3 linked regions of the Homo sapiens genome follow. The protein of the gene in region 1 interacts with the protein of each later gene in a pairwise test. Each region holds a gene or a part of one and is shown on either strand. Other genes may lie near its edges.

The links.
Region 2: the proteins of PRKRA (region 1) and ZMAT4 interact in binary tests that used the Homo sapiens proteins (3 or more experiments, as listed by UniProt).
Region 3: the proteins of PRKRA (region 1) and LYAR interact in binary tests that used the Homo sapiens proteins (3 or more experiments, as listed by UniProt).

What each region holds. Positions count from the first base shown.
Region 1 is NC_000002.12:178,430,776-178,434,189, forward strand, and holds the end of PRKRA (interferon-inducible double-stranded RNA-dependent protein kinase activator A), read right to left. Parts: intron 3,317-3,414; exon of another isoform or gene 2,607-3,316; intron 1,480-2,606; coding exon 1,322-1,479; 3' UTR 639-1,321; downstream 1-638. UniProt on the Homo sapiens protein: Activates EIF2AK2/PKR in the absence of double-stranded RNA (dsRNA), leading to phosphorylation of EIF2S1/EFI2-alpha and inhibition of translation and induction of apoptosis.
Region 2 is NC_000008.11:40,896,369-40,900,120, forward strand, and holds the start of ZMAT4 (zinc finger matrin-type protein 4), read right to left. Parts: upstream 1,459-3,752; 5' UTR 1,315-1,458; intron 1-1,314.
Region 3 is NC_000004.12:4,288,341-4,292,092, forward strand, and holds the start of LYAR (cell growth-regulating nucleolar protein), read right to left. Parts: upstream 1,815-3,752; 5' UTR 1,696-1,814; exon of another isoform or gene 1,263-1,695; intron 1-1,262. UniProt on the Homo sapiens protein: Plays a role in the maintenance of the appropriate processing of 47S/45S pre-rRNA to 32S/30S pre-rRNAs and their subsequent processing to produce 18S and 28S rRNAs. Also acts at the level of transcription regulation.

The sequences.
Region 1 (3,414 bases):
CTGCACTCCAAACACAGAGCTGAGACTTCCACCTAATGTAGAAAGCTAGCACGAGCCGGCGCTGACAGATGGAAGACTTGAGATGTTACAAGATTATATATGGAAACACAAAAGGTAAGGTTAAAATCTGTTCATTAGACTTATTTCCTAACCTTTTAATCACTCATCACTTTGGAACATTCTTGCAACTGAACTGAATAAGCTGGGAAGGTTTTTTGGGTAATTCTACTAACGCTTTTTTTTTTTTTTTTTTTTTTTTTTTTTGAGACAGGGTCTCACTCTGTCACCCAGGCTGGAGTGCAGTGCTGTGATCCTAGCTCACTGCAGCTTTGATCTTCTGGGCCCAAGCAATCCTCCCACCTCAGCCTCCTGAGTAGCTGGGACTCAAAGTGTGCCACCACACCTGATTTTCTTTTTGGTAGAGATGGGGACTCACTATGTTGCCCAGGCTGGTCTCAAACTTTTGGCCTCAAGGGATCCTCCCACCTTGGCCTCCGAAAGAGTTGGGATTATAGGCATGAGCCAACATGCATGGTCAAATGCTTTTTAAACTAGTAATTCACCTGTGTATGGTTATGTCAAAGAAAAATACAAGGTTGCATACGCTTAGAGAAAGTAAGGAAGTAACCCATTACATGTATGTTTGTAAATTTTACTTAGGCCATCATTTTTTATTTTCACCTTTGAATTTCAAAGTAAATTAGAGATATGTAAATAACAGAATTATCAACATTAAAATCTTATTCACAATGGCTAACAAGAACAGGATGACAGTCAAGTCAGTAGCTTTTTAATAAAATGAGCAGAATCCCATCGTAACAGTTCTTTGTTACATGAATTCAAATACACAGCAGACCAATCATGTTCCCTGAAATTTAACAATCAATCATACTTAATAAAGGCCTGTTAGTGCTGTCCCTCAAGACTCTAATTCTAAAGGGCTTCCTTTGAATTCCCTTTATAAAGCTTTGTGCAAAGAAGAGCTTAAGCACCAGTAAGAAAGACTGTCGCTAGCATTTTTATTTCATCATCAACAACAAACATGCAGTTTCTTTCTCTGATGTGCATGGCACTGTAAAATGGGTGCTACACTCTCTCTTGTGGTACAAAGTTTATAAATACAGTATACTGATACAAAGTTGAAGCCATTAAAAAGAGCTTAATAACAACTATGAGGAGATAATTAAATCTGGAGTGTTGATGGAATCTATGAAGAGATTTAGAAACAAGACATAAACACTACGGTAAAAGTTTTACTTGGGAAGGGGCCAGAGGGGAACTTTTTATGTGCTACTGAAAGATTTTTTAAGTTGCTCCAGATTTACTTTCTTTCTGCTATTATCTTTAAATACTGCAAAGCATTGTGAGCTGCATCACTTTGTGCATTGCCACAGGAGATACCGGAGCCATGACAGACTGTGATGGGGCTGGTGGACAGTTCAGCAAGACATTGATATTGTCCATTGGCGCTCAGTTCATCTGTAATGACACATTCAAGGATGACGATTAATGTCCAATATGTATAAAGTGGATCCCTTTGTAAAAACAATACAATTCTTATTATTGTCTTTCTTTTTAAGCCTCCATGGTATACTACACCACTCGCAATCTTTGTTTTGCTTGTACAAACAAAAAACCACAACTGCTCAGCTGTAGCAGTTTTCAAACACATTACACTTCATAATGATCTGACAGTGTTAAAGACATACAGATATCTAGGCTGCACTCTAGCTCACTCAATCAGAAATATACAGTTGGGGGTGGCTGATTCCTACACTTAAAAAAATAACAGCTCCCAAGGCAATTCTAATATAGTTAGTTGAACACTATTTGGAAATTACTGAACCACACAGTAACTTTCTCAAAAGGGAAAGAACCATTTGCTAGAGGACTGGAGAGATTGTATTTTCCACTAGGAAGTCATTTTCAGGAGGCATTTGAACCAGGAATAACTTCGGTCAAGGCAAAACCTCCCTTGTGTCTTCTATTAAAAAAAAATGTTTAATTGATACATAATAATTGTATGTATTTATGCTGTTGTCCATTCATGTTCCTAGGTTTTAAGTCTGTGCAGAGTCTAGTTCTTTATTTATACTGTAAATGGGTCATGGTATTTTAAAAACAATACCTGACCCAGGAAACAAACGTTCTTCCCATCAACTGATGAGCCACTCTTACTAAAGATGGCTGAAATGAGGGCAAAGAGGAAGAAATAGAAACGTGTGCGGTATGATTTATTTGAAGTAGGCATAATAAAAATGTTATTTTTGATACTCTATTTAGTGGAAAATATCCAGATACAATGGGATTATTTAATGAGTAAAGAGGCTTTCTAGTTCTAGTATCTAGGTTCTTTTCTCCTGACCCTCCAGCTTCTGCTTGAGGCTCATCCATGTTGTAGAATGTATCAGAACTTCGTTTCTTTTTACAGCTGAATAATATTTCATTGGAAGGACAGTCCACAATTTGTTTATCCACTTATTCACTGATGGATGTTTTGGGCTGTTTCTACCTTTTGGCTTTTGTGAATGGTGCTGCTATGAATATACAGATACCTGTGTGTATAGGCATTTGTTTAAATACCAGTTTTTTATTTATACTCCTAGGAGTGGAGTTGCTGGGTCATATGGCAATTCATTTGAGGAACTGAGAAGCTTATTCCATGGAGGCTGAACTGTTTTATATTCCCACCAGCAACGTGTAAGGTTCCAGTTTATCTACATCATCACCAACACTTGCTATTTTCCATTTCATTAATGATAGCCATCCTAGTGGATTTGAAGTGGTACCTTATTATCGTGGTTTTGATTGCATTCTCTATTGACTAATGATATCGAGCATCTTTTCATGTATTTTTTGGTCATTTGGTCATTTTTCTTTTTTAATTTTAAAATTTTGAGACAGGCTCTCACTATGTTGCCCAGGTGGTCTCAAACTCCTGGGTTCCAGCGATGCTCATGCCTCAGTCTCCCAAAGGGGTGGGATTACAGGTGTGAGCCACTTTGCCCAGCCCATTTGTATATCTCCTTTGGAGAATATCTAGGTTCTTTTGAAGGTAGCTGCATATAAACTAGCCAAATTAACAGACTGTGGTTTTTAGATGGCTTTCCATATCTACAAGAACTATTTAGTTCTCAAAACTGGGAAGAAATGTTTCAGAGGCATCATTAATTCATAATCTAAAAATTTATCTTGGGTTTCCTTTTTTCCCCCAGATTCTGTATCCTCCATAGTCCTATTCATGACATGGGTCGTTCATCTCTGTATTCTAAACCCTCAATGAACTGTAGACAGTAATAAATATTTATTGGATGAATGGTCTCTCATCAGCCACCTTTTCTTTTTTTTTTTTTGAGACAGAGTCTCACTCTGTCACTCAGGCTGGAGTGCAGTGGCGCGATCTCGGTTCACTGC
Region 2 (3,752 bases), on another chromosome or scaffold:
GATGAAAATCATCTAAACTCTTCAATGCCCCTAGGACTTGGAAGATCACCCCCAGACTATCAGCTTCAGAGTATCCCGCAGGTAGGCAGCGCAACTGGTGAAGTGCGGTGGGCACACAAGCAGAAGCTGCCTTCGCAGAAGAGGAAGAAAGTTCGAGACCAAGCACATCGCCTGCTTCCCCATGGGTCCCTGCTTCCTAGTGACTCACCTACCTAATATCTCCCTTTAGCAGAAGCCAAAGGCGGAGGAGGCAGGGGGAGAAAGGAGTTTCCCAAGGGTCTCAGAGCAAGAGAGGCCCCTGAGGTCTCGCGATTTAGAATGCTCAAGGGTGCTTCTGGGCTGAACCAGCTGCCTGCCGGGGTGAGCTGTTTTACTTCAAGAGCAGTTAGCAGAAGCAGTGTGGATGGTGACTTCAGCACCACCTCTGCCACAAATGCACCTGTGCACCAAAACAACCTGCGCACCTACACGGAGCCACCCCCTCCACCAGCCTCCACCTCCCAGAGCTGCGGGGATGCTCCGGGCCAGGCACCCCTTCTGGGGACAAGGGTGTAAGCTTCACATGGTACCAAACCGAACTCTCTATCCCGTTTTTTGGCTTTTTCTTTTTTTTTTTTTTTCAGGATACCCCAAGCCTGGAAAGTCTTCCAGAGTTTTCGGGAGCTAATTAATTATGTGATTTCCTCTCCTCTGAGAACTGTTTTGCTGGCGTGTCACCAAGTTGTCACGTAGGTGCCCACCAGGTCAAACAGAATAGACCATCCTCACCCACCCACCCCGGGGAATGTCTCCTTCCACCAAATAAAATGAACTGAGACAGGCAGGAAGGAGGCAGAAGTTTGAGGAAGGACTCCAGTTGAAGGTCACAATAGTTTGGGGAAGGCAGATCAAGGTAATACGAAGGGGACAGACCCTATAGCGGAAAACACAAACAACCAATCACGTTTCTCTCGGAACCAGCCTATCCATGATGGGTGCACCAGGAAACAGCACACCCTGGGATCCAACTTCTTTCACCCAGCACACCCGAATCTCCACCCCAGCCCTGCAGACACCCTAGCCTGAGACCAGACCTATTTAGACAGACCTGAGCGCAGCTAATTAGGAGTAGTAAACAAGCCCATTTCTTGCCAGCGCAGAAGTTTCCCAAATTGTCCGCTTGTTTTCCTCCCAACAAAAGACAGTGATTTCCCACCTTTATCACATTCCCTCCCAGAAACTTTTCTTTCTGCAATCCCTCCACCTAGGCTAAACTGCAAAGCCACTGGCAATGGAGACGCAGGCGCTGCACCCCCGGGACGCAGGCAGAGGTACCTTTTCCGCGAGGCAGAGGGGCCGCCGGTGCCCAGAGGCCAGCTGCCCTGCCGAGCAGTAGAGCGAAGCTGTGGGCTGGAGCACGCTGAGGATTACACGTTCCTGTCTCTGCGACCAGACCTTTCGGCAGCTCGGACCAACTGTGCTAGCGATGCACTTAGCAATTATCTGCTGGCTCCGACGCCCCGCCCTCTGCTCTTGCGATTGGCTCTCCAGTCCCGGGCAGGACTGCATTGGTTTCAGCCGACCTCACTCATTGCTTTGGCTCCTACTATTATCTAAGCCATCAAAGGAAATAATTCCATGTTTCATTGACAACCTGTAAGGCTCTCCTCCAGCCCAATGTGGGGGCAGGACCGGGAGGCCAGTGGAGAGAGGGGAGAGGAGTAGGAAAATGTGGGGGAGCGGGGTGGGGGAAGGAGGTGGAGGGGAGAGGAAAAGAAGGAGAAACTGTGGGGGGGTAGGAGGGTAGGAGGGAGAGAGAGAGAGAGATGGAGCTATCAAGCAATCAGATTCTTGCTCTAGCATTTTAACTTCCACAAAACAGAGCCCATAGCAACAATTTTCTGGCTTTATTTTCCCCCTAACTGGTAAATGTTGCTGAGGGCAGAGAGAATAATAACTATGGGGTGTCTGCCGGCATGAGACAGACTCTAGAAAGCCGAGCAAGGTTGAGGGCTGAAGGGATGGAGTAATGCTTTTCACAGGGCCACCCTGGAGGACATGTGAAGGACATGGCAGATTGCTTGGGGAGCATAGTAGGTGCATACCTGGAGTTTATCTATCAGTACTTTATCTCACAGTCCCCCTCATCCCCCAACCTGAGGAGACAATTTTCCTTTGCACCCTGTCCAAAGAGTCTCAGAAGAGCTATTCTTAAAATCCATAAAACTCTGGAGTTTCTCACTGTTCTCACTGGGAGGTCCAGAAAGCCGAGCATTCTAGAGTGAATGATTCTGCTGGGACCCTCACTTTGGTTTATTCTGACATGGCTTAAATTAATCGCTTAGACTTTCATCAACAACCTACGCACGTGAAGAGAGAACATACCCATCAAAGGGTGGGGACAGCTTAAACACTTTTCCTTGTTCACCAAGAAATCATAAAGTCTCACCCTAGTTAAAATGGCTTTTATCCAAAAGACAGGCAATAACAAATGCTGGCAAGGATGTGAAGAAAAGAGAATGAACCCTCCTACATTGCTGGTGAGAATGTGAATTAATGCAGCCACTATGGAGAACAGTATTGGGGTTTGTCAGAAAACTAAATATAGAGCTACCATCTGATCCAGCAATCCCACTGCTAGGTATATACCCCCAAAAAAGAAATCAGTATCTTGAAGAGATTCCTGCACTGCCATGTTTATTGCAGCTCTGTTCACAATAGACAAGATCTGGAAGCAATGTAAGTGTCCATCAACAGATAAATTAGATGAAGAAAATGTGGTACATATGCGTAGTGGAGTACTATTCAGCCATAAAAAGGAATGAGATCCTGTCATTTACAACACCATGGATGGAACTGGAGGACATTCTGTTAAATGAAATAAAACAGGCATGGAAAGACAAACTTCACATGTTTTCATTCATTTGTGAGAGCTAAAAATTAAAACAATTGAACTCATGGACAGAGAGAATAGAATGATGGTTACCAGAGGCTAGGAAGGGGCGGGGGTGGAATGGTTACTAGGTACAAAAATAGAGTTAGATAGAATGAATAGGATCTGGTATTTGACAGCACAACAGGGTTATTACAGTCAGCAAAACATATTGTACATTTTAAAATAACTGAAAGAGTACAATTGGATTGTTTGTAACAAAAGGAAATGCTAAATGCTTGAGGTGCCAGATACCCCATTTACCCTAATGTGATTATTACACATTGCATGCCTGTATCAAAATATCTCGTGTACCCCATAAATATATACACCCACTATGTTCCCATAAAATTAAAAATTTTTAAAAATTAAGAAGAAATCATAAAGCACAAATTTTGACCTTCCCCTCTCCTTAATGTATTTGTCACCATATGGAAAAGACATCACTTGGCAGCTAAATTTTCTTAACTAGGTAAAATATTTATTATTAATGTTTCTAAAATGAAAGAGCTTTTATAAATCAATAAGTACAAGACCTATAACCCAATTCAAAAATGGCAAAGGACAAAATGGGCTGAATTTTTTAAGAGAGAATTATAAAAGCGTCTTTTAAAGAAAGCTTTTAAAATATCAAATTTCAGATGATCCAGAAACTAACCCTTCAGCCTTCTTATCCTAGGATCTCCATGTCTTTGGTGAGGCTCTGGTCCCAGTCCTGCCCTGGCCTCCCCTGGGGCCTTGAATGGCTGTAGTCCTTATCTTCAGCTGCGTCCTCTGCAGCAAATGGCAGGTGCCCCACTGCCTTGTATGGTGACTTTCTATTTCATGCATACATGCCTGG
Region 3 (3,752 bases), on another chromosome or scaffold:
CAACCTTCTCTGGCTCCTCACCCCATGGCTGCCTACTTTACCAAGTTCCCTGATAACATGCCCTTAGGTTTGGTTCTGAGATTGGAATGATTTTTTTTAAATCTTCTTCCCTCTATATTTTTGTATTACTTATTCAATTTTTTTTCTTTTTTTTTTTTTTTTTGAGACGGAGTCTCATTCTGTTGCCCAGGCTGGAGTACAATGGCGCAATCTCGGCTCACTGCAGCCTTTGCCTCCCAGGTTCAAGTGATTCTCCGGCCTCAGCCTCCCCAGTAGCTGGGATTACAGGCACATGCCACCATGCCCGGCTAATTTTTGTATTTTTAGTAGAGACGGAGTTTCACCATGTTGGCCAGGCTGGTTGTGAACTCTTGACCTCAGGTGATCCACCCTCCTCGGCCTCCCAAAGTGCTCGGATGACAGGCACGGGCCACTGCGCTTGGCCTTGACTATTCTTAAAATATTCTTGCATGCACATGCAGACACTGACCTACACATCATTACCACCACTACCACTCAAACAGCCCACCTGAGGGGCCTAGCTGGCAACCCCAGGATATCCCCCACTGAACACTGTGACCCTGAGCATGCCACTGCCTCTATAAACTTCAAGTTATCTCATCTGTGAAACAAGAAGTCAGGCCAACTTGACAAGACTCAAGCCCCTTCCACGGGTAGCATTCTGAGAAACCATGGGTATGGTGCAAGAGAAGGACAGACAAACATACTCTGTCCACCATCCTGCCTAAACCTTTGTGTATGAGGCTGACAAGGGTTACAATGGGTGACATTCACAAGGAGAGAATCTCTCCCTTGTTCCTTGCAAAAGCCCTGGGAAGTAGGTGCACCTATCTCCACTAAACAGATGAGCAAACTGAGGCACAGAAGCCATTTCTCTCTGCCTCCTACCCCACCCACGGCATCACCAGCACTGTTTTAAACACCATCCCTTCACTCGAGTAACTACCATGTGTCAGGCACTATGCTAGACCCTGGGAGCCTCGGGCACAGTGTGAGTAAGTCCCAAGTGGGCCCTCTCTGCTAGAAATCAGGGTTGCAAATACAGACCCCACCTCATCCTCCTCCCTCTCTCCTCAGAGGTAGGTGCTTCAGAGAATCCTAACATTCATGGAGCACCCAAGCCCTCTCATAGGAGGTTAACACATTTCTACTCATGTAATCCTCATCACAGTTCTCCGAGTTAGATTCTATATGTTATGACAGATGAGGAAAGTGAGGCGCAAAGAGGTTAAAAAACTTACACCAGGTCATCCCACATCCAGGTAGTGGCAACCCAGATTCACACGCAGTAGTTATTCTGATCCTAAGTATGTGCTCTGGACCGCTACATCCTAAGGCCTCCTCTTTAGGGACTGATCTCCCAAGGCTCAGAGAAGAGCCCTGTCTCCAACATGCAGCAAGCCTGAAGCCCAGTCGGGCGGTGACCAATCGTCCTGGTTTGGCCAGGCCCGAGGGAGTTCCCAGGACGCCGGACCTTAAGTTTTAAAACTAAAACGAGTTGGTCACCCTAAGTCCAGGACTCCTGCCACTTCCCCAGAGCAGGAGTGAGATCTGAATGGAACTCCTTCCTCCATGCGTAACCCAGAGGGGCTGACGGTGGAAATCCCGTCCCTCCCCTACTCACTCTCTGAGCCCCAGCCTCCCAGGTCGGACCTCTGGGCCACCACCCCTCACCTCTCAGCCAGCGCCCGCCAACGGTTTCAACCGGCCGCGGGGAGCACGTGGACTCGCCGCCGCCAGCCCAGCGCCGCAGCTACCTGCCTCTCAGGCTTCGCGGTGCAGAATTCGCTTCTGAACCACCCAGCGCGCCTGCGCACCGCGGCCACGCCCCCCCCAGTGGAAGTGACGCCAACGGAAGCAGGAAGGCGGTTCCGGCAAGCCAAGGGGGCGTTGTCGTGATGATTCCGCGGCCAGCGGATCGCTGCGAGTGGCCTTGAAGGCAGCTGCTGCAGGTGAAGAGTAGGCGGCGGGGCAGAGAGCGGCCTCCGAGGGTAAGGTGGCCGGCCTTGCGAAGGCGTGCGGGGCTGGCGCTGGTGGGAATGGCCCGGAAGGGAAGGGAGGCCGGGCGCCCGAAGGTGGCCCAGAAGGGCATGGACCCACCGCTCCTTCCCGTCTCTGGGCACTCGAGGATACCCGGGGGGTTGGCGGCTCCTGCGAGAGTCAGCGAGCATTTGCTCTGTGCCGGGCATCACAGGGGACGCGGACTGAGACCCAGACGGCCAGGTTCCGGGCCTGGGAGCCGGGCCTTCTCCCTGGTGCAGCTTCCTCGGCCTGGAAACCCCACCCGCGCCCTCTCATCTCCAGGCTTTGCCCGCTGGAAGCCAGCCCGGCCCGCCTCCGCTACGCGCTGCCCATCTCTCGGCTTCTGTTTCCTTCCACGCTGTAGTTGAGAGTAGCGCTTAAGACGACAGAGCCCACAGCCTAGCTCAGTTTCATTACGGTGTGGCCTCTTTGTGCCTCAGCCCCGCATCTGTAAAGCGAATGTCATAGCGGCACCTGCGTCCCTGGAACCTTGTCGTATTTCATGAGTTGGTGCATGTAAATCGCTTAGACTAGTGGCTGCCACTTAGTAAGTACTCAATAAACGTTAGCTCTTCTCAGCCCTTAAAACAGGGTCTGGCACACAGTGGTGGTCACTAGGTGTTTGTTGCTTAAATGAATGAATGAAAGTTGAGTGGAGGATGCACAGAGTATTGTGAGAAACCTTCACTCCCAAGGTGTGTGTATATGGGTGATAAGGTTTCACTCTGAAAGTGAGCAGTGTTGGGCCTGGAATAGAAGGTGTATTAGTTTGCTAGGACTGCAAACAAAATACTGGGTGGCTTAAACAACAGAAATTTATTATTTTCTCACAGTTCTGGAGGTTAGAAGTCCAAGATCAAGGTGTCTTCAGGTTTGGTTTCTTCTGAGACATTTCTCCTTGGCTTGCACGTGGCTGCTTTCTTGCTGTGTCCTCGCATGGTCTTTCCTCTGTGTTTTCACATCTCTGGCGTCTCTCTTTGCATCCAGATTTCCTCTTTATGAGAACGTCAGTCAGGTTGTATTAGGGCCCACCTTAATGGCCTCATTTTAACTTAATTACCTTCTTACAAGCCTGATCTCCAAATACAATCACATTCTGGAGTGCTGGGGGAACAGTTTAACCATAACAGAAGGAATTCACAGAAATGGACAAGGAGGGAAATACTTTCCAACAGAAGTGACAGAATGGCCAGGAGGCTTAAAAGCAGGGTGCTCAAGATGTTTTTTGTGTTCAGGGCACATATGTGTACTTCAGTCTTGTTTGTGCTCTCGTACTGTTTTTGGGTTTGGTTGTTGTTGTTTGTTTGTTTGTCCTCCTGAATACTCAAAGAAAGTGAGCCCTCTCATTTTTTTAGTCTGGCAAACTTAACTCACATTTCAGCATAGATGTGTCTTCCAGGAAGTTTTCCCTGACCCTCCCTCCCAAATTAATTTCTGCTTCCTCCATTTAATAACTTTGGTACAGGGCTGGGTGCGGTGGCTCACGCCTGTAATCCCAGCGCTTTGGGAGGCCGAGGCAGGCAGCTCCTGAGGTCAAGAGATAGAGACCAGCCTGGCCAACATGGTGAAACCCTGTAAACCCCATCTCTACTAAGAGTACCAAAATTAGGCGGGTGTGGTGGCGCATGCCTGTAATCCCAGCACTTTGGGAGGCTGAGGCGAGTGGATCATTTGAGGTCAGGAGTTTGACACCAGCCTGGCCAACATGG